Homo sapiens: one gene and its partners. The protein of the gene in region 5 purifies or fractionates together with the protein of the main gene of each other region. This does not show direct contact. Each region holds a gene or a part of one and is shown on either strand. Other genes may lie near its edges. The genes, in order: VPS54, DGCR8, ATG4A, ERI1, SYN1, ERGIC1 and ANTXR1.

Region 1 (3,500 bases), on a different chromosome or scaffold from region 5:
ATCCAACCCTCTTCTTAAAATTACTTTTCATGAGTATTGACCATAAACTTATGAGTCAAGGAAAGTAAAAGTAAACTGCATGAACTTTGAGGTAAAAATTAGAACAATTTGAGAATTTGTGTTTGCCAAGGCGGCATTCAATCTTTGATTCTATTTCTCAGCTCTGTACTATCTATGGGATACTGGCTCCCAATATTCATCAACACTCATGATATTATACAGTAAGTGATAAGTTAAAAACACAGCTTCTGTCATTATAGAAATCCATTTCTCTAAGGCAATGACAAAATTGACATTTATTGAAAAAATACATACGACATACAAATTCAAAGATAAATCCTTATAATTTCAAAGGTGAAGGAAAAATTAAAAATAATTTAGTTGCCCTGGGTTCCATGCTGGGGAATTCAAAGTAGACTTCAAAAAAACATGAATCACCCAAAATTGATTGCAAAATTTTATGTACAGGTATATTTTTGTGGAAAGATGGTCCAACAGTACCTTTCAATGGATTCTCAAAGAAGTTTGTGACTCAGAACGTTTTCTTAACCATCCAAGTCTGGATTAGGTTCCACCCCTAAGGTCAGAGCTCCACAGCAATCTTTCCATTCATCATACTATATTACACTATATCATAACTATGCAGTAATTTGTCTGCTTCCTTCCCCATGCCAAATAAATTGTAGAGACTTTTAGAGCACTGAACATCTCTACTTCATTCATGACTATATTCCCAGTATTCATTCTGTCTGGTACTTGACATGTAATAGGTGCTCAACAGCCATACCTTAACTGAATGAATCAATCAATTGTTCATCTAATTAAATTTGGTTTCAGCTTTAAAAATATATCCTAAACATTCCAATTACATATCTTCAGTCAATAAGATTTATAATTCAATTAAAATAAATGTATTTTGAAGCTAACTTTTCCATAATGGATTAAGTTACAGAGCACATCTTCCATAAAACTTTATAGTCACTTACTAGTACGTGGTTTGGATGGTTTTCCCAGCAGATATGAACTTCTACAAGGATACTGCAAGCCTGCTTAATGGAACGAAATTTTGATGGCTTGCAATTAGTCTATAAAATAAACACTTTGGAATGATTTCATATAAAATATTTAAAACCTAAGGTATTTTCAAAATAATAACAGGAGAAATTGGGTCTTTTCTATCACCATGTGGATTTCTTTTGCAATTTGATAAACAGACTGCAAATCAGAAATGAATTTTAATAATTATTCAATTTTAAATCTATTAAAGGCTTTCAACACAAACTTAATTTTAAATATGCTGGTATTCTCTCCACCTTGACCTACCATTGTGACACAAAGCTATTTCAACACTTTCAAAATGTTAATGTTGTGACTGGCCTTGCATTTATCTCATCTCCTAGAAATTTTAATTTTGCTTCTCCATCCAAATGTCTCTGAAAATATTATTCCTTATGGTTTTTGTTTTGCTAATACTACAATATCAGAATAACATTATTAAACAAATGATCAATCTGGAAGAAAAAATATCCATTTAACTTTGAATATATTCACACTTTTAACATTACATGCTCAATTTTATCCTTTAAAAATTTCTAACATTATTTCTAGTGGCTTACTTAATGAACATACCGGAAACTGTGAATGCCCTGAAGTTCCTGCTGTAGAACCTCTTGTGTTGTTGCTATTAAGTCCAATGCTCCAACAAATTCAGAAGTAGATAATAACACCTGTACTGTAGGCTGAGTCTGGTGTACAGTGGCCATTAACTTCAGCTTATTGTATACTTTAACACAATTATTTCTGGTAAGTGCCAGTCTTAAAATGTGGAGTGATCCTTCACACATTACTTTATCAATCTGTGCAATTTTATCTCGAAGCATTTTTACAGCCTGGGAAGTTTTCCTGAGGTAGTCCTGCAACTCGTGTTGAGAGGTCATTGCATGAAAAAATGCTTCTGAACGTAGAGAGATCTGGTGAGCAATGTTTACTTCCACAATATCCAGATAATGGCTCAGCTTAAAAGAGAAGGAAAAAAAATATGAAGTACTATGAGCATACCTTCCTTGATTATCCAAATACTTTATGACAATGATAAAAGATTTCTACATATACTTTAAATTCCATTGTGTGAATTGTTTGATTGTGAGATCCTTGAAATTGGGCACAACAAAATGGAAGGAAGATAAAGGGTACACCCCAAAGATATAAATGTAAGACAAAAGAGTACAAGGTCATTTACTTTCCTCCTCTGTTCCTGTCATTATCACCTTCCAAACACCAACTGCTTTCTAAAAGAGTACCCCACAGACATCTCAAATTACAATTCCAGTTTCAGATGTTCTAAGATCTGAGAGAAAGAGAATGATCTCCTTAGCCCCCAATATCATTGCACATCATTTATCTGACTAAATAGATGATTACACCTTCCATTTATTGACCTCCTCCTATGGATTAGGCACAGGTATTTTATACACATCTAATTTTTCTAATTTTAACAATCTTGAAATATAGGTAGTATTATTATCATTTTACAGATGAGGAAACACAGTCATGTAGTTACTAAGTAGCAAAACTAAAATGTTGGTATATCTCTGACTGAAAAACTGAAGCTGTTTCTATTATACCATTCTGCCTCAAAATGCTGAATAATCCAAGATAGACTGATGGTTCAGTCACAAATTATAGATAAGGTACTAAAATTCATTTGGATTTTTTTCAGGCTGCTTATTTTACATTTCAAAAGTGATTCTTTTATCAATTTGTAAAATTCAGTTTATTTCCAATGAATTTTCCTCTTAAAAGTTCGACAAATACCTTAAACAATTAGCTCATATATATTTTTTTAGTAGCATTACCAAGATTAATTCTTATGGTAATATATATTTAAAATGCTTTCTAAATTTCAAATATGGACTTCTAAAACTTGTTTTGCCTTTTCTTCCTTTCTAACTGCATATGCCTTTTTTGGCTATATTATCTTTCCATTATTCACCCATTTTTTTACTTTGAGATTTTTTAACCCACAGCTCAGACTTCGGGCATTATCTCTGAATGTCTTGGGATAATTCATAGTTTCAAAGGGTTAATGAACTTTCAACATTTAGGTCTCATAAGATTAGAAGAGACTATTTGGTCATCAAATCTGTTTCCCTAAGGAAACACAGAGTATCATTCATATCTTCAATAATGCTCCTTCAATAATCTTACAATATCTAAATAGGTTACAAACAAGAAATTTTTCCACAGTTTAAATCTTGAGTTTATGCCCTTTTGCTCTTTCATCTTCAATATGGCTGTTCATTTATTCACTAAAAAAGCAAAATGGGCACAAATATACTAGGGTAAATTGCAAGGTAACATGGACTCAATTCCCAGAATAGTAAATGGAGAATAGATAACTTTAGGACAGTGCTACCCAGAATGTGATTTATATGCTGCTGCCAATCTGTGGACTGTTTAACAGGGCCATAATAAAATAAAGAATTTTGCTAGAAAGTAAA
Region 2 (3,500 bases), on a different chromosome or scaffold from region 5:
CCAAATCTCTCTTTGGGTTTTGCTAAGAGCCCTCTAGAGGAGGGGCTGCCAACATACCTCGTAGGGGAAATTCAAGGCCTCTTCATCCACTCTGTCTCTCTGAACGATTGCTTTAGCCGTGAACCCGCCTGCTCCTTCTTCATCTAGCTCCAAATTGTCAGTAAAATCTTCTAACTCATCGAGCACTGCATACTCCACTCTCTTTTCCTGATCCAGCTCATTCTCCTCATCCTTCTTATCAGCACTCTCACCCCCTATGCCTACCCCGTCACCAACACTCCCGCCAAAGGGACAAGCATGCACGTCCCCACTGACAGGGCTAAGGAGCAGACCGCACTCCGCCCGCACGTCGCGCTCTGCTCCTGTGTACAGCACCTTCCTGTCCTTACTCCTGCAGCTCTCGGTAAAGCTCACGCTAATCTTTACATCCTTAAGCAACTTAAGGTCAGGGGAGAACTTCCGGACCGCAGGTGCGTGCCGGGCGGTGCGCGGGCTGTGGCCACTACAGTTCGGGTCTATGAGGAGGCGGCCCTTAGAGAAGGATCCTTTGGAGAGAAGAGAAGCTCCGTAGAAGTTGAAGGGGTCCTCAGCAGGGAGTTCGGACTGTCCATCACCACCAGAGCCAACGTCCATTACCTCTGCACCACTGGACGTTTGCAGGGGAGGTGGTGGAGACTGCTCACGGGGCAGCGCTTGGAAGGGGCGAGCTCGGCTCTCCATCACCGCTTCTCCTGCGGGCCCACACGGGAGCGGAGAGGGGCTCTCATCTGTCTCCATATTAAAAGCGCTTAAGACTAGTTTACAAGACCAGAGTTTTACAAGCCCTCACATAAATCTACACAGCTAACATGCACAAGTCCGCTGAGACCCGGGCGCGTCCTGCCGCGCTGTGCGCTGGCGGCTTAGTCAAGCTGGCCACATTGCTCTTTTCATTAATGTAGACAGCTTTTAGAACCACTGCCTCAATTATTGGAAATCACAATGCACTCAGCTTAAGTGACTGGCGACTAAGCGAGTCTGTCTTCATGCCGGAGTGGCACCTTTCTTCTTCTACCTGCAAAGAAATTTAAAAATATCGTCACAAAATGACAGAAACCTTCCAATTCCCTGGTACCAAGTTAAAAGCCAAGCACTATTAACAGCATAGTAAAGGGCTTCAAAATAATATTCCCTAAGAGGACTTTTTAGGCATCAAAACAAACTAACCTTACTTTTATTCTTCAGAACCTGAATTATAACTTAAGTCCAAAGTTAAATATTTTGTTAATGCCCACTTTAATTCCTACTTCAGAAACACAAAAACTATATAATCATAAGGCTCAAAAAATATTTTAAAAATTTACACTAAACTCCACCACAGCATTCTTCTAACTCAGATAAGCAAGCATGCAGTGGGAGGCACCCTTTCTGGAACACACAGAAGGCGCGTGGCCTCCCTCAGGCCACCAGAGCACAGCAATCCACTCACCTGCAAGGGCTGGGTCAGTCAGAGGGCGAGCGCGAGACCCTCAGCTCAACTCTGCGGCACTAGGGGCCTCAGAGGCATGGCCAGGCGCTCTGCTACCCAGGGACCCCAGGGCTCTCCTGGGCCCACAGGGTAGCACGTGGACGGGGACAGTGATGCAGCGTGCTGAGGTCACCAGAGGTGGCAGCATAGTTCTGTTCCCGATGGAGGAGAGGGGTGGGTGGCTGTGGGGAAGGGACCTGCCAGGATTTGGGGTGGGGAGCCACAAGAGACAGCTGGAGCCGAGGCACAGAGAGGCCTGGGTGCCACCTGCAGCCCGTTCCGCCCTGGGGACAATAAGGAGCCACTGAAGGTGAAGCGACTCTCATGCCACAAGTAGGTTCCTACTTGAGAGGGGAGACCCACAGCTGTGCCAGGCAGAAGCAACTGCATCCAAGGCACGGGGACAGTCCTCCAGGCCAGAGGACAAAGGTGTGAAAGAGGCCCTGGCAATGGGCCAAGAACAGTGTCACAGAACTGACCGCACTTGTTGACCCAACGGAGGTGGATAGCAGAGAAAAGAGGGAACTAAAGACAAGGAAGGACACCCAAATTCCAGCATGCAGGCAGGAGCCTGGCGAGGAGAACAGAGGGGACCTCCAGGCAGGCTCTGAAGGTGCCGAGGCCACAACTCTGGAGCCATGACTGGTCCAGATACGGAAGGCCAGGACGCACTGAGGAGGTAGTCGCCAAACCCACAGGAGGAAGGCCACCCAGAGATGAGGGTTAAGGATGCAACTCTAGGAAGCCTTACTACAGAGGAAGCATGAAGAAAGGGACAACATGAAGCAGGGAAGATGGGTCTGAGGGGGCAGCCAGAAAACCCTGCATCAGAGCAGAAGGAACACATGCAGACACACGCACATGCACACTCCCACAACGTGCACAGGAACACGCATGCATGCACATGCGTGCATACCAGTAAAGATGCACACATGCAAACCGCACTGCATGACCTAACATCCTCCCAAGATTCCCGGAAAGAACAGGAGATGCAGACATCACACATTTAACAAGGGACAAGGCATGGTGGATGTACTTCGAAGGGGACACAACATGAAAACCAGAGACTAGTTTAGGTTTAATCAATACATTTAACAACTATCCACTGGCCATCTACTCCGAGGAACGCACTATATGGACAAGAGACAAGGTCACAGGGCCTGGACACACTGGCAGGTCAATGACCACTGCACTGTCACCCCATTTCCTGGATTCTAAGATGTCCTAACATTTCTGAATCTAATGGGAATTTCACACCGTATGTTCCCAAAGATGTGTCCATCAAAGGTGCTGAGGATCCAGGAAACACAGCACAGAGCTAACAACTGACTATAAAGTGCTGAAGACGCTCAAGAGGCTGTGGGCAGCAACCAGGCAGGCATGAGGAACACTAAGTGGGGTGAGGTCAGTCTCCTGGCAACCAAGAAAGACCATTAGAGAAAACAGACCGAGGGGTCAATGCGCCCAGTGCCACAGATTACAAGGAAGACCAGGGCCACACACCTCAGAACCTGGCAGTCCCATAGAGACCCTGGTGAGTCAATCCATGATTCTGGGACACAAAAAGCTACATGAAGAAGCCACAAGGAGCAGGGGATTAGAGACCAACAGTGGGACGGAATGGGGAAGCCTGCTACCACAGAAGGCGAAGAAGCAGCTAGAGTAGACGTTCCAAGCAAAGGTGCTAATGGGGCCAAGCGGCGGCACTGAAGAAATGCACAGCAGGAAAGCCTGGTGCCTTACAAGTGAGTGAGCTCCTTAGGAAAGCAGGAAACCTGCCCAGCCCCAGACCTCAGTGGTGGGCAGTCCTGGGCAAGTTCCTTCCTCCCCTCTATAAGCTTTCTCCATTCATCACACACACACACACCATCCTAGATGCTACAGACACAAGGTGGACAAAACCCTGCCCTACAGAGCTCACATTTTAGTGGGGGAGATGGACCGCTAACAACTAAGAAAAGCATGCACCCTGTCACATGCCAAGAAGTATTCA
Region 3 (3,500 bases), about 60 Mb from region 5:
AGGAAAATAGTAGTTGCCAGGGGGTTGGTGGGGGGTGGGAAATGGGGAGTTGCTGCTCAATAAGCATAGAGTTTCAGTCATTCAAGATGAAAAATTTCTAGAGATCTGCTGTACAACATTGTGCTTATAGTTAACAATATTGTACTGTACACTTTAAAGTTTGTTAAGAACTAAATCTCCTGCTATGGTTTTTTACTGTGATAAAAAAAATACATGACATGCAGCTAAAGCAGTGCTGAGATGGAAATTCATTGCACTAAAGGCTTAACTTAGGGAAGAAGAAATGTCTGAAATTAATAATCTAATTTCCCACCCTAAGGAACTAGAAAAGTAAGAGCAAATTAAACTGAAAGCAAGCAGAAGTAAGGAGATAAAGAGCAGAAGTCAATGAAATTGAAAACTCAAAATCAACAGACAACATCAATGAAACAAAGAGGTAGTTCTCTGAAAAGCCTCATAAAATTCACAAACCTTAAGCAAAACTGACAAATAAAAAAGATAGGCCACAAATCATTAATATCAGGAATGAAACAGGAGATATTATTATAGACCTTGCAGACACCAAAAGGGATTACTACAAACAAATATGCATGTATAAAGTTGATAATTTTGATAAGCTGGATAAATTCCTTGAAAAGCACAAACCACCACAACTCAATAGAAATTAGATAATTTGAATAGCTTGGTAACTATTAAGAAAATTGAACATATAATTTTAAAACTCAAAAAAAAAAATTCTTCATTGAAACCATCTGGGCCTGAATGATTTCACTGCAGCATTCTACCAAATACTTAAAGAAGAATTAACACTCATATTACACAATGTCTTCTAGAAAATAGAAGAGGAGGGACTACTTCCCAACTCTTATTATAAGGCCAATATTGCACTGATACCAAAATCAGACAAAGACAGTACCAAAAAATTAAATTGCAAGCCAATATCATTCATGAATAGAAGCAAATATCCCCAGCAAATATGAGCAAATATAACATATAAATTATACATCGCATCCAAATGTGTTTTATCCAAGGATGCAAGGCTAGCTCAACATTTGAAAATAAATTAGTGTAATCCACTGCATTAGCAAACTGAAGAAGAAAAATCACAAGATCATATCAATTGATGCAAAAAGTATTTGGCAAAATTCAATAGTTATTCATGATAAAAACACTCAGACAACTAGAAATCAAGAGGGAACGATCTAAACTTCAAAAAAAACTACATTATAGTTGATGCTGAAAGACTGACCTCTTCTTCCCTAAGACTGGGAACAAGACAAGAATTTAGCTCTCACCACTGCTATTCAACATAAAACACAGAGTGGAAAGGAAGAAATATCACTGTCCCTCTCTGCAGATGACAAGATGGTCTACATAGAAAGTCCTAAAAAACAATGAAAACAAAAGAAAAAAAATTAGAAAAATACCTTTTAACCCCCTAGAACTAATCAGTGAATTCAGCAAGGTTTCAATATGCAAAACTATCATACAAAAATCATTTATATTTCTATATACTAGCAATGAATACATGGAAACCAAAATTCAAAATAAAATACCATTAATAGTCACTCCAAAAATGAAATGGTTATGTATAATTCTAACAAAACATACAAGATTTCTATGCTGAAAATTGAACAGTGCTGATAAAATAAATAAAAGAAGATCTAAATAAAGGGAGAGACATATGGTGCTCATGGATTGGAAGACTCAGCATAGTAAAGATGTCAGTTTTCCCCAAACTGATACACAGGTCTAATACAATTCCTATCAATATCTCAGCTAACTTTTTTCAGATATAGGCAAGTTTATTCTAAAATTTATAGGGAAAGTTAAAGGAACAGGCAATATTGAAAACAATAAACTAGGAGGAATCACTCTATCAAATTTTAAGATTTATTATAGAGCTACAGTATTCAACACTGTGTGGTATGGCAGAGGGACACATACGTAGATCAATGAATCAGATTAGAAAACTCAGAAATAGATATACACAAGTACGGCATACTTATATTTTACAACAGTGCAAAAGCAATTCAATGGAGCTGAAGTAACTAGATATCAATAATCCAAAAAAATTAACCTTGACCTAAACTTCACATTTTATGCCAAATATTAACTTAAAATGGATCATGGACTTGAATGTAAAATGTAAAACTATAACATTTTCAGAAGAAAATCTAGGAGAAAATATTTGAGACCTACGACTTGGTGAAGACTTCTTAGATGTAACAACAAAAGCACAATCTATAATAGGGAAAAAAATCAATAAGTTGAATGTCATCAAAATTAAAAGCTCTTTCTCTGTGGAAAATCCTATTAAGATGAAAAGACAAGCCACAGACTGGAAGAGAATATTTGCAAGCTACATATCTGACAAAGAACTGGTATCTAGAATACATAAAGCACTCTGAAAACTCAACAGTAAAACAAACAATACAATACAATTAGAAAATGGGCCAAAGATATAAAGAGATATTTAAATGAAGAAGATATGGGGATGACAAATAAACACATGAAAAGATGTTGAACTTTATTAGCCATCAGATAAATGCAAATTAAATCAGTAATATATCACTACACACTTATCACAATGGCTAAAACTTAAAAAAAAAATAGTGAGAATACCAAATGCTGGAAAGGATGTGGAGATACTGGATCTCTCATACCATTGCTGGTGAGAATACAAAATGGTACAGTCACTTTGGAAAACTAGTTTGTCAGATTCTTTTAAAATTAAACATATATTTACCGTCCCACCTTGTAATTGCTCTCCTGGGCATTTATCTCAGAGAGATGAAAATTTCCATCTACACAAAACACTGTACTCAATGTTAATAAGAGTTCTCTTCGTAATAGCCAAAAACTGGACATTTAAAAATGTCCCTTAATAGATGAATGGTTAAAAAAACTGTGGTACCTCCATGTCGTGTAATATTTCTCAGCAATAAGAGGGAATGAACTATTGATACCAATTTGAATGAGTCTCAAATGTATTATGCTGAGTGAAAAATAGTGGAAAAGGTCACATACTTTATGATTCTAAAAATTAAATCATTTTAATTATATATAAAATTCTTAAAATGACAGTTATAGAAAAGGAGAACAAATTAGTATTTTTCAGGGGTTATCAATGGTGGGGGTAGGTGGTGGGTGTGACTATAAAGAGGTAGCACAGGAGAGATGGAATATTTCTTGATTGCGATAATGGTTAAACAAATCTACACATCATAAAATAACATAGAATTATACACACGTATCATTCCAGTATCAATTTCCTGGTTTTGATATTGTATTATAATTATGTAAAATGCAATGATTGAAGTAACTCAGATGAAGATTATATGGGGCCTTTCTGTACTATCTTTGCAAATTATTGCGAGTCTCTTATTCATAATAAAACCCTTTTAAAAAAAGAAACCACTTATAAAGCAAACAACTTAAAACAAGAGTGTGGAAGCTAAAACTCAGGGAGTAAATATAAAGTGCTTTATTATAACAGC
Region 4 (3,500 bases), on a different chromosome or scaffold from region 5:
GGAGGGGGAGGGTATTTCAGGCAAAAAAATAACAGAAACTTTTCTAATTCCAGTTTGTATGGTTTCTGCAACATGATCTTGCCTTTTCTTCACCTGTTGTGCAACCAAAGTTATAGGACATAAAAGTGTATTGAGAACATGCCTTTTATTTTTTATTTTTTTGAGACAGAGTCTTGCTCTGTCGCCAGGCTGGAGTGCAGTGGTGTGATCTCGGCTCACTGCAACCTCCGACTCCTGGATTCAAGCGATTCTCGTGCCTCAGCCTCCTGAGTAGCTCGGATTACAGGCATGCACCACCATGCCTGGCTAATTTTTGTATTTTTAGTGAAGATAGGGTTTCTCCATGTTGCCCAGGCTGGTCTCGAGCTCCAGCTCAAGTGATTCACCCCCCTCCCAAAGTGCTGAGATTATAGACGTGAGCCATCTGGCTGGTTGAGGCCATGGCTTATAGTATATTTTGTCTGCAGTACACAGTATACCTCAGGAACATGTGACAATGATAGTGAAATGATAGGTTGTAGCCAAGTTGTGAAGGAACTCTATGCTGAAGTCTGCATTTTACCTCGTAAGCAGAAGGGAGCCACTGAAGATATTTAAGCAGAAAATTGGTGTTAGTGCTCAGTTCTCAAGTAAAGTAAAGAATGAATCGAAGTGTTGTGGTAATGGAGGCATTTGCCATGCTCAACGAAGCTAATGAGAGCCATAGCAGAAAGAATTAGAGAGAATCATATTCTGAATATGTTTCTGAGTTAGAATTGACAAACATGGTGAATATTTGGAAGAGCAAAGGAGATGTTAAAGATAGCAGGTTTCTATCCAGAGCAACTAGTTGTATGTTTGTCCTGCCATTAGCTTTGCAGACAACTCTGGTAAATGTAGTCTCTCCCCCTATCACACCTCCCACCCCACAACAATAACAACCAATAAAAAGATAAAAAAAGAAAGTAATCCAAAGCTGTCACATGACACAGAGGTCACTCACAGTGCCTTAATATGAAAGAGGTTAAGGATTTTCTCCGTAGGTCTTGATAATTTTGAAAATCTCAAGCAAAGAAACAATATTAAGACATTTCATCTTAAAAAAGCTAACTGGTTGATTATTACTATTTTCATGGGTAGGATTTTTTTCAGTGCTTAATTGTATTTTAGAAAGGAAAATAAAAGACTAAAAAGGTTTTTTTTAAATAGTCATTAATCAGTTAACATGATACTTTACTTGGCACTACACATTAATTATAATTTAGATCTTTTTATTTTTACTTCCATTTCATATTTGCAGGCCAATATAGGATTCATTTATATAACGCTGAAGGAAGCCTGAATGCTGGTTGCAACTTAATTTTTTGGAAAAATACATATTGTTTAAAGAATGAAGTCACCTGATCACTGTTATCTGTTAGGATGACCTTTCTCTCCTCCCCACTACTCCATTTGTGGAATGTATATTTTAAAGCTACCTATAATATTGAAATCCCCTAAATCATATTCTACCCATGATAAATTAAGAAACTTATTTCTAGTTAAGAACCTACTAGTGTGATAATGCTCCTTTGGACAGTTTACTTAGAGTGTATTCTAATTGAGTTTTCCTTGTTAAGTAGCCAACAGACATTCACCTTTATATGCTAGGCTCATAATGCTTTCATATTCATATGAATCTTTTGAGTTGACTAACCTACAAAAGCCAAAAGAAAGGAAAGAGATAATACGATATTTTCAACTTAACCCAAATTTTTATATTCTTAAGTTTATATTTTGGCCAGTGGAATAATTTTATATTAATTTCAATGTTTGTATCATATATGTTATCTTAGTATATAAGGCAGTATGACGACTGTGTTGGTAGTATATGCTGACAGTGTTTATGGTTTGAAGTACCAGTATATGTTGGAGAAAATACTGTTATATACTACTAAAATAAAAAAAGACTTGTGAAGGAAAATGTTAATGTTGTAATAAACATATTATTTTAATTAGTTCTTTGCTAACTTAGCTTTGAGTCTTGCTTTTCTTACATTTATTTTAGCTAGCATTTGCTAAATTTCGCTGTGATTGTCAGTGTTCAGCCCAGTGCCAGCAGGTGAGAGTTTTGATTCTTGACTGTAGAATTTACCTAAGTGTAACTAGTCTTCTTCTTCTACTTAGAGGAGTAAAGGATGTTCTAAAGAAGAGACTGAAAAACTATTATAAGAAGCAGAAGCTGATGCTGAAAGAGAGCAATTTTGCTGACAGTTATTATGACTACATTTGTATTATTGACTTTGAAGCCACTTGTGAAGAAGGAAACCCACCTGAGTTTGTACATGAAATAATTGAATTTCCGGTTGTTTTACTGAATACGCATACTTTAGAAATAGTAAGTGAATTTTTGTATTTTAATTGTATTTCTAGCAGCAACTATTCTGGTGTTTACTGGTTATGTGGAGGACCTCATTTGCTTTTTAGCCAGAATTAGACTTCTAAAGTAAGTTTTTTCTTTGCCATGAACTTTATATCAGCTTGATTAATAGAAAAGCTGTAACAAAGCAATTTTAGAGACTACTGCTTTCTTTTTGCAGTAGCGGAAGTTAAAATGTTGTTTTCCATTTGCTTAGAACATCTGGGTGTGGACATCAGAATCTCCTGGTAAGTAAAAAAATAAAGAAAACACTAATGATACTGATGCCTGGCCCTAGTCCCAGAGATTCTAATTTAGTTCTCTGATAGGGCCTCTGACATCAGCATTTTTTTGAAGCTTTTCAGTTGGTTTTAATATGCGGTCAGGCTTGATAACCACCACTGTGGCCTAGTGTGAACTCTGATCTCTAAGAATGATAATTTACAAAAATGACTTTTGAACCTCTCTCTCTGGTGGAAAGTTTAAGGGTGAAATGACTCATATAACCCTGGTTTCTAAGCCAAATAATATGTGTGCTTTAGATACTTGTCAGTGCTTTATTAGTTAAGAAAGTCTAGTAGGAATTCCCTAAAATAATACTGTTTACCTTATAAAATCTGAGCAAGAATATCCTAACATCTCAACTTTCCAAAAGTCACTTCTGTGATATCCTCAGTTGCTACCAACCCACTTGGGAGTAAGTATAAAAAGGTTTTGTGAATTAAAATGCATAGGTTATTAGTGCTATTCAAAATCTCTTTTAGTTATAGTCTTAGCCTATTTCTATAATTTTCTTATCCAAAGCAGATTGAAGGTCAGTAAATTAGAAGGAAAAATGGCAGCTATGAAGGCAAATAATCTTGCATAAGTCACTAGATTTTACTTCTCTCTTACTCAAGGACGTTACTGTAGCAGTTCTCCCTCATTTGGACATTATGATTTATTGCTTTTGTCTATATTGCTCCCACTACACAAAAACATGTTATATTTTTCACACTGTGTAAAAACTTCATCCCACTTCACTGCCAGCTACTGCATTTCTTTGTTCCTCTTTTTGGGAAAATTCTTCACTTAAGTTATAGGTACTTATATGTTTATCTCTTTCCTTTTCTTCCATTCTCTC
Region 5 (4,023 bases):
AGAAGGAAGGGGAGCTGAAGAAGGGTTATTCCTAGTATATAATGGTGCATAATAAATGCCTCCCACACTTTCATGGAAAGGATGCAATAAATATCTGCAGAATGAATAAATTGCTCTGAATGGAGAGAAAGGCTACTCGGTAAAGGCTCCTGGGGGAGAGGTAATCTAACCAGTAAACAGCTGGTACTCAATACATTTAGGCTGAAGTAGACCCCTAGAGAGAGAGCTCTTGAGGCAGGGTCAGGGATTTCCAGAGACTTGGAAAGAGGAAGTTGAAAGTGACTTATACAGTAAGTGCTCAATAAGTGTTTACTTAAATAGTAAAACTATTAAGTAAATAGTAAATTTAGTAAATTTACTAAATTTATTTAGTAAATTAAGTCAATAGTAAAACTATTAAGTAAAAGTGTTTACTTAAGTAAGTGTTACTTAAATAGACTAAAAGCCCTTTGGGGGTATGAATTAAAGTTGGTAGAGGGAATCCTAGGGGTACTGAAGGGAGTGGGAAAGGGGTGATCATTATAAACTCAGCTCTGGATTTATCACAGGAAAGGACCTTGGGAGAGGCCTTGTGATTGGAACAGGCTCTCCTAGGGGTAAGGAAGAAGAATGTACTCCCCAAAACAACAGGTCCTGCATATGTGCTCACTGGATCTACTGTTAAGAAAACAATTCTGGGGAGGAGGTGTGAATATACAGAACACACAGAAGACACTCCATAAATGCTCAGGGGAGCCATTGGAAGAAAAGGTCTTTGGGGGAGGATGATTAAAATGGAGCACATGACAGACAAGGAATAAATGCTCACTGGATCCATTAGAAGAAAAGGCCTTTGGGGAGTGGGGCTGGGGATGGACATATAGTCACCTGATCAAGGCTCACTGCATCCCTGAAGGAAAAGTCCTATGGGGAGGGGAAATGGGAGTGCAGAAAGTTGATCTATGGGAGCTCGATTCTTCATCCATAGGAGAAAAGGCTTTTGTGAAGAAGGCACACAATCAGGTACACAGCAGGTGCTCCATAAATACTCCAAGGAGTGATTAAAAGAAAAGGTCTTTGGAAAGAGTGACTGGAATGGTACACACAGCAAGTGCCAGATATCTGAGCACTGTATTAACTGGAGGCACAGGCCTTTATGGAGAGGTCTAAGGTTGGGTCATGCAGAAAGTGCTCAATACATGCAGACTGAAGCCACTGGAGGAAAGGGTATTGCAGAAAGGGTTTGAGGGTGGGGTATACAGCAGGCACCAGTCAATGCATGCTTGCTGAATACACTGGAGGAAAGAACTTTTAGAGAAGGCTCACACTGCAGGCAGTTGATAAATGCTAGATGGATCCACCAAAGGAAAGGTCTTTGAAGAAGTAGCTGGAGAACGGGGGATACAAGAGGCACTCAATAAATGTTTTCTAGATCCACTGTAGGGAAAGGTCTTTGAGGAGACGGTCTGAAGATGAGTCACACAAAGAAGGTTCAAAACTGCTCATGGAACTCACTGGAGGAAAATGATTTGTTTGAGAAGGGGTTTGGGGGTGCGGCACGTATCAGGCACTTAACAAATGCTTCCTAGATCCTTTGGAGAAAAGGCCCTCAGAGAGAGGGCTTGGAGTTGGGGCACAGAGAAGGCATCCAATCAAAACTCACAGGATCCATGAAAGGCAAAGCTTTTGGAGAGAAGCTGGGGTGGGATACACAGCAGGTACTCAATGTTTACTAAATAGTTTAAAAGGGCTTTAAGGACGGAGCTGGGGTGGGACACATAGCATAGACTGGACACATGCTCACAAGACCCATTAGAGAAGGCCTCAGGGCAAGGGTTGAGGAGAACAGGACAGTATCAGGCTCTCAAAGAATGCTCACAAACCTCATTGAAATCAAAGGCCTTGGGGAAGGGCTCTTGGATGAGGCATACTGCAGGTACTAGATAAGTGCTCACAAGATCCATTAGAGGACAAGGCCTATGGGGCAAGGGTTGGGGAGGGTAGGAAGGACACGTTCGGTTTTCGAAGGCTCATAGGATATATTGAAGCCAAAGACTTTTGGGGGAGGGGTAGTAGGGAACAGGTACGCAGCAGGTGCCTGATAATTGCTCCCTGGATCCATCAAGGTTTAAGGGGCGGAGGGGGGCGACAAGGGCGGGGCACAGAGGAAGCATCCAGCTTAATAATTTAAAGGAAAAAGATTTAGGTGAGAGGGCCAGGTGTCAGGCACACAAGCGGCGCTCGATAATTGCTCATTCGCAGAAGAACGATCTGGGGACCCAGGCCCACGGGAGACGTCCGCGGCAGTGGCTTACCAGTCGGTGTGCGGCTCGTCGATGACCAGCAGCACCCTGGAGGCGGCTCCCCCGCGGCCTGCGCCCCCAGAGCCGCCGCCCACCTGCTCGCTGAAGGTGGCAGCTGCCGCCGCCGTGGTCTGCTTGACCGCGTTGGACAGCGACGAGAAGAAGCCACCGCCCCCCGAGGACCCGGGGCTAGGGGCGGCCGGAGAGGCCGCTGGGGCGACCCCGGAGGACCTCTCGGCAGTGGCGGTCCCGGGACCGGGCGTGGCTCCGGGGCTGTGGGCACCGGGCGGCGGTGGGGGCGGCTGCGGACGCTGCAGGTCTGTCATGTACCCATTTGGCAGATTGGCCATAAAGTTGCTGTCCGACAGGCGGCGCCGCAGGTAGTTCATGGCTGCGACTTGGGGCAGGGGGTCCTAGGGGTGGTCTGGCCAGGAGCCGCGGGGGCGGACTGCGCGGTGCCCAGGAGCACAGCTGCGCTCTCAGGCACGACACGACTCCTCCGCTGCCCACCGCAGACTGAGGCAGCGCTGAGTCGCCGGCGCCGCAGCGCAGATGGTCGCGCCCGTGCCCCCCTATCTCGCGCCTCGCGTGGTGCGGTCCGGCTGGGCCGGCGGCGGCGCGGACGCGACCAAGGTGGCCGGGAAGGGGAGTTTGCGGGGGACCGGCGAGTGACGTCAGCGCGCCTTCAGTGCTGAGGCGGCGGTGGCGCGCGCCGCCAGGCGGGGGCGAAGGCACTGTCCGCGGTGCTGAAGCTGGCAGTGCGCACGCGCCTCGCCGCATCCTGTTTCCCCTCCCCCTCTCTGATAGGGGATGCGCAATTTGGGGAATGGGGGTTGGGTGCTTGTCCAGTGGGTCGGGGTCGGTCGTCAGGTAGGCACCCCCACCCCGCCTCATCCTGGTCCTAAAACCCACTTGCACTCATACGCAGGGCCCTCTGCAGATACTCGGTTTGTAGTGTTGATATTCAACTCAGAAGGCATTTTTTGGGGGGAGGGGGGCACTGGAAGCACACTCAGAGACACGAAAGTAGAGAAATAACCCCCTCACAGAGGGGGGTGAGGTCACACGCAGTGCCCGCGGGGAGATTAGTCTCCCACATCCACACAGGCTCAGCTAGGCAGAGAGCGGGGGCGTCACAGACAGCATCAGACAAGCGGAGGTGGACACTTGGGTGGTGTACACACCCTTGCCCAAGGTGGCAAGGGGGGCCTGGAGGCACACAAGAAATGACACACATATAAACACACACAAAAGTGAGGAAACATACGAGGGCATGTACAGACAGAACACACGCCAATCTAGGTATACATACAGACATACAAGTCCAGAGTAACACACATGGGCATGTTACATACATGCATGCATACACCCATACCCCCACACACACAGGTAACACACTGACACACAGAGACCCAGGGAAACTCATATGAGCATACACTTGCAGACAAAACACATTCCCACCGATGATCATGGAGAAACCTAGATCTGCAACACAGACATTCTCTGCAGCCCTAGCCCTGGTGCGTGTCCACCCCCACACCAGAACACACTTGGTATATACGCCACCATCCCTTTGCTCTGGACACCGCCAAAACTCACGATAACTACCTGATGTCATCAGTGCCCATGGCTGTCTCCCCCTGCACCCAAGAACTTTCCACAGAGGCAGGCCCATCCCATGGTGCACACACAGTAGGTACCAAATAATGTTTGCATATGAGCAAATGAGGTAGTCCAAGCA
Region 6 (3,500 bases), on a different chromosome or scaffold from region 5:
GTGGCGAAAGCTATCTCAGGCTGGCTCAAGTGGAGAGAAAAAAGCATGAGATCAAGCAATGGACAGCTGGGGAAGGGCTGGCTTTTATTTCCTCAGCTCCCAAGCTCAGTCCCTGGCACTGGGCCGTTGCCTTTGTAGGTCCCTCTGTGCCCAGGTCTTGCTATGGGGGTTGTTTCTTGGCATTAAGGTCTCAGTTCAAACGCCACCGTCTCCAAGAAGCCCTCACTGGTCACCCTATCTAAAGTAACCCTCACTCCTAAGGACAAACCTGTTTTTTCTTCCTAGCATAGACCACTCTCTGAAATCACCTTGTTCTCCCAGTCATCTGCTGCCCTTGGCTGTTGCGCCAGCTATAACATGGCACTCTGCCTTGCCCACTGCTTTGTCCCCAGGACCCAGCCCTGTACCCAGGGTATAGTAGGTATATGATCGATGATAAGAGGCCTGGAGGCCACTATGGAAGAGCTCCTGCCAGATGGTGGTGGAGTGCGGTCATGAGGACCTCGGCCTCCAGTGTCCCCCTCCACTCTTTCCCAGCCCTGTGGTCTTGGGAAAGTCATTTAACTCTGCTAAGCCTCAGTTTCTGCATGTGTAAAGTGGGAAGAATCCTCTCCACCTTAAGCCTTGCTATGAGGATTAATGAGATGCGTGTACAGAGTTTAGTACACGGCCTGCCACATTGTGAGTGCTCAATAAATGTTGGCCGTTCTCTTCATTATCGTCAGCAGCTAACTTCAGGAACGAGATCCCCTAGGGCAGAATCTAAGGAGAAACTTTCCTATATCAAATTGTATCTTGTATTGTGGTACTGAATTGTTTAACTGGTCCTGAATGATATAACTGGAATGAAACCAGCTTGTCATGTATATGTATACACATAATATGGGCTGTCATATATATATATGTGTGTGTGTGTGTGTGTATATAAGTATACACACACATACATATATATGGGCTGCTGGTTTTAAGAATGCAGATTCTGGGCCCCACTCCAGTGGCGGGATAGGGATGAAACAAGATTGGCCATACGCTGGTAATTGCTGAAGTTGGGAAATGGGTACGTGGGAGTCCATTATACAATTCCCTATGTTTTAGGTTTGAATTTTTCTGTAAGAAGATTTTGCGGGTAGGGGAGGAGGAGTGAGCTTGAAGGGAATGTGGGCTGGCCTAGACCAGGTTGGAGCCAGCAGTCTCTAGGAATGGTCAGCTCACAAGGAATCCACATGGGTGTAATTAACTGCAGTGTCTCCAGTGGGCATTTGGCAAATTGTATCAAAGGCCTTAAAAATGGTCATTGCCTTTGAGTCATCAATTGTACTCATAGGAGAGTAAGCTAAGGAAATAATTAAGAGAGTGTACAAAAATCTAGGAAAATAATGTTCATTAGGTCATTGTTTATAAAATTGAAAATGAGGAACCACGTCAGTGTCCAGCCATAGGGGGTTGACTGAGCATGGTAACTGCCCAAGATGAGCGAGGTGTGTCAGGACCTTACTGGCAGTCAGGCAGCAAAGATTTATTGAGCACCTACTATATGCTGGGCATTGGGCTAGGTTCTGGGGATAGAGAGATGAATAAAACAAACTCTGCAGAGCTTATGTTCTGTGTCTTAGACCTGAAAAGTTGATCATGATGTTCAGTTCTTAGAAAAAGATGGCTGGGCGCGGTGGCTAACGCCTGTAATCCCAGCACTTTGGGAGGCCAAGTCGGGTGGATCACGAGGTCAGGAGTTCAAGACCAGCCTGGCCAAGATGGTGAAACCCCCATCTCTACTAAAAATACAAAAAATTAGCCAGGCGTGGTGGCAGGCGCCTGTAGTCCCAGCTACTCAGGAGGCTGAGGAAGGAGAATCACTTGAACCCAGAGGGTGGAGGTTGCAGTGAGCCGAGATCGTGCCACTGCACTCCAGCCTGGGTGACAGAGTGAAACTCCGTTTCAAAAAAAAAAAAAAAGATACGGTATGGTCCTATTTTAGGAAAATACAAATATATGTATAAACATGTCTGGCAGTTTATATGTGAGACTGTGAACCATAGTTTTCTGAGGATGGTGAATTTATGGTGATTTTTTGTTTTGTCCTTGGTGATCACCTGTGTTTTGTACAATTTTTTTTTTTTTGAGATGGAGTCTCGCTCTGTTGCCCAGGCTGGAGTGCAGTGGCAGCTCACTGCAACCTCCACCTCCCGGGTTCAAGCGATTCTCCTGCCTCAGCCTCCCTAGTAGCCGGGACTACAGGTGTGTGCCACCAGGCTTGGCTAATTTTTGTATTTTTAGTAGAGATGGGGTTTCACCATGTTGGCCAGGTTGGTCTTGAACTCCTCACCTCAAGTGATCCTCCCACCTCGGCCTCCCTAAGTGCTGGGATTACAGGCGTGAGCCACCACATCCGGCCTTGTACAAATTTTAACAAGAAATATTACAGGGGTGATTTTGATAAGGCATTCACTTTTTCATTCCTTCAAGTTTTTAACCTAGGGCAATGGGCGTTTGGACACCACTATCAAGCGTGGTCTTGGGCTCTTGTTTTAAAAATGCAAATTCTGAGCTCCACCCTTGACCCATTTGGCGGGATGCTCCTGGAAAGAGGTCCAGGTGTCTTTTTATTCCAAATGATTCGACTGCTTCTGACATCTGAGAACCATTACAGGGTTGAACAGAGGGATGTTGGAGTCTTCATGGACTGGGCTCTGCGGCTGCAGGACTTTTCTCGGGTTTTCAGAGGAACCTACTCAAAACAATTCAAGAAGCACTTCCTTTGCTTACTGAGATATGGCTTTGGCAGGAAGGGGCAGGGAGGGAGTGTCAGGGCAGTGAATGCTGTCTGCATTCCCAGCCTTCTTACAGAAGAGGACTGACTCGACTCTGCGACCAGGCTTAGAACCCACAGGCCTAAATTTCTGTGTTATTTTAGCTCTGTAGTCCGTGACCCGAGATTGTGGAAGGCCCATGAGCTTCCTGTAAGCATCCCAGAAGGCCCAGGAGAGTTCATACCTTTCCTGAGTGATATTTGGCAGCTCTGGGCCAGCATTCTATCAGCCCAGCATTGGATTCCAGTTACCTCACGCTTATCAGCAGCTGATTCATCTGTGCTTTCATTCATGCCCCTGTCCAATCATCCTTCCATCCGTTCATTCATTCAGTAAGCATTTGCCACGGTCCACTTGGTACCAGGCCCTGCACGGGGCTCTGGGGACACAGAGTTGAGTAAGGCTCCATCCCTGCCTTCAGCAGCTCCCCCATCCAGGAAGAACTGATCTGCCGTTGATTTCTTTCCCCATTCTCAGTTCATCAGTGCTTCATTGGTGCAGTTTTTCTGGTTGATAGGCTCTTTTCTTTTTAATACTGAAACCTAGTTTGTTTTAAAAGTAAAACTATTCAGACAATGTCAGAGGATGTACAATGAAATGGGATCTTTCTCAAATCCTGCCTTCCTCCCCAGAAGCTAAAGCTGCCCGTGGTTCCTTGGGCATCTTTCCAGATAATTCTCCTATATATTTACA
Region 7 (3,500 bases), on a different chromosome or scaffold from region 5:
TTTTGATTTGTTGGAGAAGCCCTGATCCAAAATTAGCAAATTAACTCAGCGAATGATGAAAATAATCTTTGTTGCTATTGGAAGGGGGGTAAGGCTGTGTGTGTGTGTGTGTGTGAGTGTGTGTATGTGTATGGATGGTGATGGGAGCTGGCTCTATTGAGTCTTTGACTTGAGGCTTTGGAGTTGGTTCGGTTCTGTTTGCAGCTTGAAACTGGAGTCTGTAGCCCTGAGTTGGGGGCCTTGTTTTCCAGACCTCAGCAGAACAAGGACTTTGCCTATCTCAGTATGAAATCAGAGAGTGGGGACAGATTATGTCTAGAGTCTTTTCAGCTATAATTTTCCAGTGCTCTCTGACAAGTGGCATAGTGCAGATGTTTATGGGCATGGCTAAAGATTGAAGGTGTTAACTGAATCATGTGAATTCAAAGCCATTTGGACCAAGAAGAATAGAAAAGAGGCCTTCAGGCTGGGCATGGTGGCCCATGCCTGTAATCTTAGCACTTTGGGAGGCCGAGGTGGGCAGACTGCTTTATCAGGAGTGCAAGACAGGCCTGGGCAACATAGTGAAATCCGTCCCTCAAAAAAAAAAAAAAAAAAAAAAAAACAAAAATTAGCTGGGTGTGGTGGTGCGTGCCCGTAGTCCCAGCTACTTGGGGGTTGAGGTGGGAGGATGGCTTGAGCCTGGGAGGTCGAGGTTGCAGTGAGCAGAGATCACACAACTGCACTCCAGCCTGGGTGACAGAGTGAGAACCTGTCTCAAAAAATAAATAAATAGAAAATAAAAAAGAGGCCTTTAGGAAACATTAACTGCCTCCAACGGTTTACACTTCCCAATAAACCAAAGAGGATTTTAAGATCTGGAGGTGTGGGGGAAAGACAGATGGTGGAGAAAAAAGATTTGCTTACAACCAGAAAGAGTGAGTCCTAGATCCATGACCAGTGAGATTTGCTGGTGGGCCCTGATACACTGGCAGGAGGCGCAAATAAAAGGGAATGGGCTTATATTATGGCAAAAGGAGTAGAGATTAGCATTAAGGAGAAGGCTGCCATTTTTCTTAGATAGTAGATTGTCTGCTAAGTGAAGTTATGAGATGCTATGGAAATTTATAGTCACTCTCTGGGGTTACTACCCAAGTTACTTGACTCACAGTCCATGCTTTTTCCAGTACCTTGCCATGGTGATTTTTTTTTTTTTTTTAATATGGAACACTTCACGAATTTGCATGTCATCCTTGCCCAGGGGTCATGCTAATCTTCTCTATATTGTTCCAGTTTTACTATATGTGCTGCAGAAGTGAGCACCACGGTGATTTTTAAAAAGCCTAGTTTTCAACCCAGATTATGTGGAAATTGACAAAGTAATTACTAGTACTTTCAAGTCCATAATTTTAGATAATTGTTCCCCTGTGATAAGCTGGGTTTTAGGTTGGGATTTTATCATGTGGAAAGATTTTGATTCTTCACTATGTAAGTGTTTTATCAGGACTGATGATAGATTTTTTGAGTAAAGAGACACACCTTGATTGGAGAGTACCACTTCCGGGGGGAAGAAGGCCGACGCATATTGTTGTTGAGATTTCGCGGCTCAGGGAATTCATATTCCTGCTCCGGCATCTTGACTCTTGCATTCTTTGCCTTTTCCAACTTAGCACCTTCTTCTGTGGAGCCCTTTTCTCCCCAACGAACCTAAAATAAACAAAATACAATGAAATGAAATGACAAAATATGCTGCCCCTCGAGAATGAGAATGACAAATACATGCATGAGTTGCAATGTGAATGCTACCCAACCCTGGATTCCTTTGGGTTTTGAGGGCCAGGGAAGAGGGAAACTGTGGAAAAAGAGAAAAGGGGAGGACCAAAGGAGCAGAGAGCTGAGCCACATGGGTGGATATTTAGGGAGGAATTGTCCAGGCAGCGGGGACAGCACATGCAAAGACCTTGCAGGTTCAGGTACGAACTTTGGATTTTATTCCAGTGAGAAAAGAAATCACGAGGACGTTTGAGCTGATGTGTGACCTGCTCTGACTCACGGTGGGCAAGACATGGAAACGCACAGTGAAAGGCTGTCCCTCCTATCTCTCCATCCGTCTGCCTTACAATCCATATCCCCACCAGACCTCAAGGAGGTTTTCAGCAATTTGCTTTGGGTTTCTGACATTGAGTCATCAGTGTGGTCTACGGCCATACTGCCCTGGGCATGCCTGATATCTAGAGGCTAAGCAGGGTCAGGCCCGGCTGGTACCTCGATGGGAGTAGTCAGCACATAGATAAGTGTATATGAAGCTGTCCTCTTACCTCCATTCTTTTAATGCCTCCAACGCCTCTCCCACCATAATAAGAGGCGTCTACCGTTGGCCACTTTTTCTTAGGCAGACCATCATCATCTTCTTCCTGCAGAGAAATTGTGGCACATGAAGGAAGCAAAACAGCACTGCTGTGTGGACCTGCCTACTACAGCCAAGTGATTAGGAGTAGAGCTTATAGAGTCAGACTGCCTGGGTGCAATCCCAGTGCTACTGTTTCCTAGAACCTTGGGCCAATCACTGAAACCACCTAAGCTTGTTTTCCTTATCTGTAGAGTGGGAATGTAAGCAGTGCTACCTGGTAAGTTTGTGGTACAGTCCTGTTCTCTTGTTCTCTTCTACAGCTCTACTCCTTTGTGGGAATCGCATCTAACCCCACCTACATGCTAATGACTTGTGACTTTACATCTTCAGCCCTGATGCTTCTGAACTCCAACTGCTCACTTGACATTCACATTATTTGGGGGCTAAAAAACATCTCAACAACACCACAGCAGAGATGTCCTGATTTCCCTACCCTAAACATGCTCCTCCTGTAGTCTTCCCCACTGCCTCTCTCTTCTTTACTGCCTCTCCCCAACTTGTCCCAACTTGCCAGCTAGTTCTGTTGCTACTACTTAAAGATCTAAAATCTGTTGACTTCTCCATCCCCACCACCACTATCCTGGGCCCAAGCCCCCATGCACTTGCTCATGGACACTGTGGTAGCTTCCCAACTGGCCTCCTGCTGCCCTAAGACTCACCTATGATCTGTTCTCCACAAAGCAGCAGAGTAAGTGCAAACGCCAGCTCTGCCCTGTGTGTTCTGGCCTTTGCTCACCTTTCTGGCCTTCTTCCTTATCATGTGCCCCCCTCCTCCTGAGCTCCAGCCTGCCTGCCCTCTCTCAAATACTCTGGGCAAATTCCTGTCTTGGGGCCTGTGCACAGTGTCCCCTTGTCCCCTTGTCTAGGAAAGCACTTCCCCCACCCCATCTTCTGATGGATGGATTTTCATATTACTCCTCAGAGAAACCTCCCCTGGAAATTTCTTCTAAAGTAGCCGCGGTCTCTTCATTCCATCAATCTGTTTTATTTTTAGTTAAGGATCTCATCATGGCTTGATATTTACTTAATATCTGTCTCTCCACACTAGAACGTACGTTCCACAGAGGCTTTTGTTTGTCATGCTTACAATTGTATTCCCAGTCTTTAGAAT

What was found.
Region 1: the proteins of SYN1 (region 5) and VPS54 purify together in Homo sapiens (affinity purification with mass spectrometry; one large-scale study listed by BioGRID and IntAct). This does not show direct contact.
Region 2: the proteins of SYN1 (region 5) and DGCR8 purify together in Homo sapiens (affinity purification with mass spectrometry; one large-scale study listed by BioGRID and IntAct). This does not show direct contact.
Region 3: the proteins of SYN1 (region 5) and ATG4A purify together in Homo sapiens (affinity purification with mass spectrometry; one large-scale study listed by BioGRID and IntAct). This does not show direct contact.
Region 4: the proteins of SYN1 (region 5) and ERI1 purify together in Homo sapiens (affinity purification with mass spectrometry; one large-scale study listed by BioGRID and IntAct). This does not show direct contact.
Region 6: the proteins of SYN1 (region 5) and ERGIC1 purify together in Homo sapiens (affinity purification with mass spectrometry; one large-scale study listed by BioGRID and IntAct). This does not show direct contact.
Region 7: the proteins of SYN1 (region 5) and ANTXR1 purify together in Homo sapiens (affinity purification with mass spectrometry; one large-scale study listed by BioGRID and IntAct). This does not show direct contact.

Annotation. Positions count from the first base shown.
Region 1 is NC_000002.12:63,960,429-63,963,928, forward strand, and holds part of VPS54 (vacuolar protein sorting-associated protein 54), read right to left. Parts: intron 2,016-3,500; coding exon 1,630-2,015; intron 1-1,629. UniProt on the Homo sapiens protein: Acts as a component of the GARP complex that is involved in retrograde transport from early and late endosomes to the trans-Golgi network (TGN).
Region 2 is NC_000022.11:20,083,241-20,086,740, reverse strand, and holds part of DGCR8 (microprocessor complex subunit DGCR8), read right to left. Parts: exon of another isoform or gene 1,469-3,500; intron 1,055-1,468; 5' UTR 778-1,054; coding exon 58-777; intron 1-57.
Region 3 is NC_000023.11:108,098,278-108,101,777, reverse strand, and holds part of ATG4A (cysteine protease ATG4A), read right to left. Parts: intron 1-3,500. UniProt on the Homo sapiens protein: Cysteine protease that plays a key role in autophagy by mediating both proteolytic activation and delipidation of ATG8 family proteins.
Region 4 is NC_000008.11:9,009,397-9,012,896, forward strand, and holds part of ERI1 (3'-5' exoribonuclease 1), read left to right. Parts: intron 1-2,145; coding exon 2,146-2,356; intron 2,357-3,500. UniProt on the Homo sapiens protein: RNA exonuclease that binds to the 3'-end of histone mRNAs and degrades them, suggesting that it plays an essential role in histone mRNA decay after replication.
Region 5 is NC_000023.11:47,617,058-47,621,080, forward strand, and holds the start of SYN1 (synapsin-1), read right to left. Parts: upstream 2,801-4,023; 5' UTR 2,672-2,800; coding exon 2,295-2,671; intron 1-2,294. UniProt on the Homo sapiens protein: Neuronal phosphoprotein that coats synaptic vesicles, and binds to the cytoskeleton. Acts as a regulator of synaptic vesicles trafficking, involved in the control of neurotransmitter release at the pre-synaptic terminal.
Region 6 is NC_000005.10:172,928,251-172,931,750, forward strand, and holds part of ERGIC1 (endoplasmic reticulum-Golgi intermediate compartment protein 1), read left to right. Parts: intron 1-3,500. UniProt on the Homo sapiens protein: Possible role in transport between endoplasmic reticulum and Golgi.
Region 7 is NC_000002.12:69,180,679-69,184,178, reverse strand, and holds part of ANTXR1 (anthrax toxin receptor 1 isoform 1 precursor), read right to left. Parts: intron 2,394-3,500; coding exon 2,298-2,393; intron 1,687-2,297; coding exon 1,519-1,686; intron 1-1,518. UniProt on the Homo sapiens protein: Plays a role in cell attachment and migration. Interacts with extracellular matrix proteins and with the actin cytoskeleton and thereby plays an important role in normal extracellular matrix (ECM) homeostasis.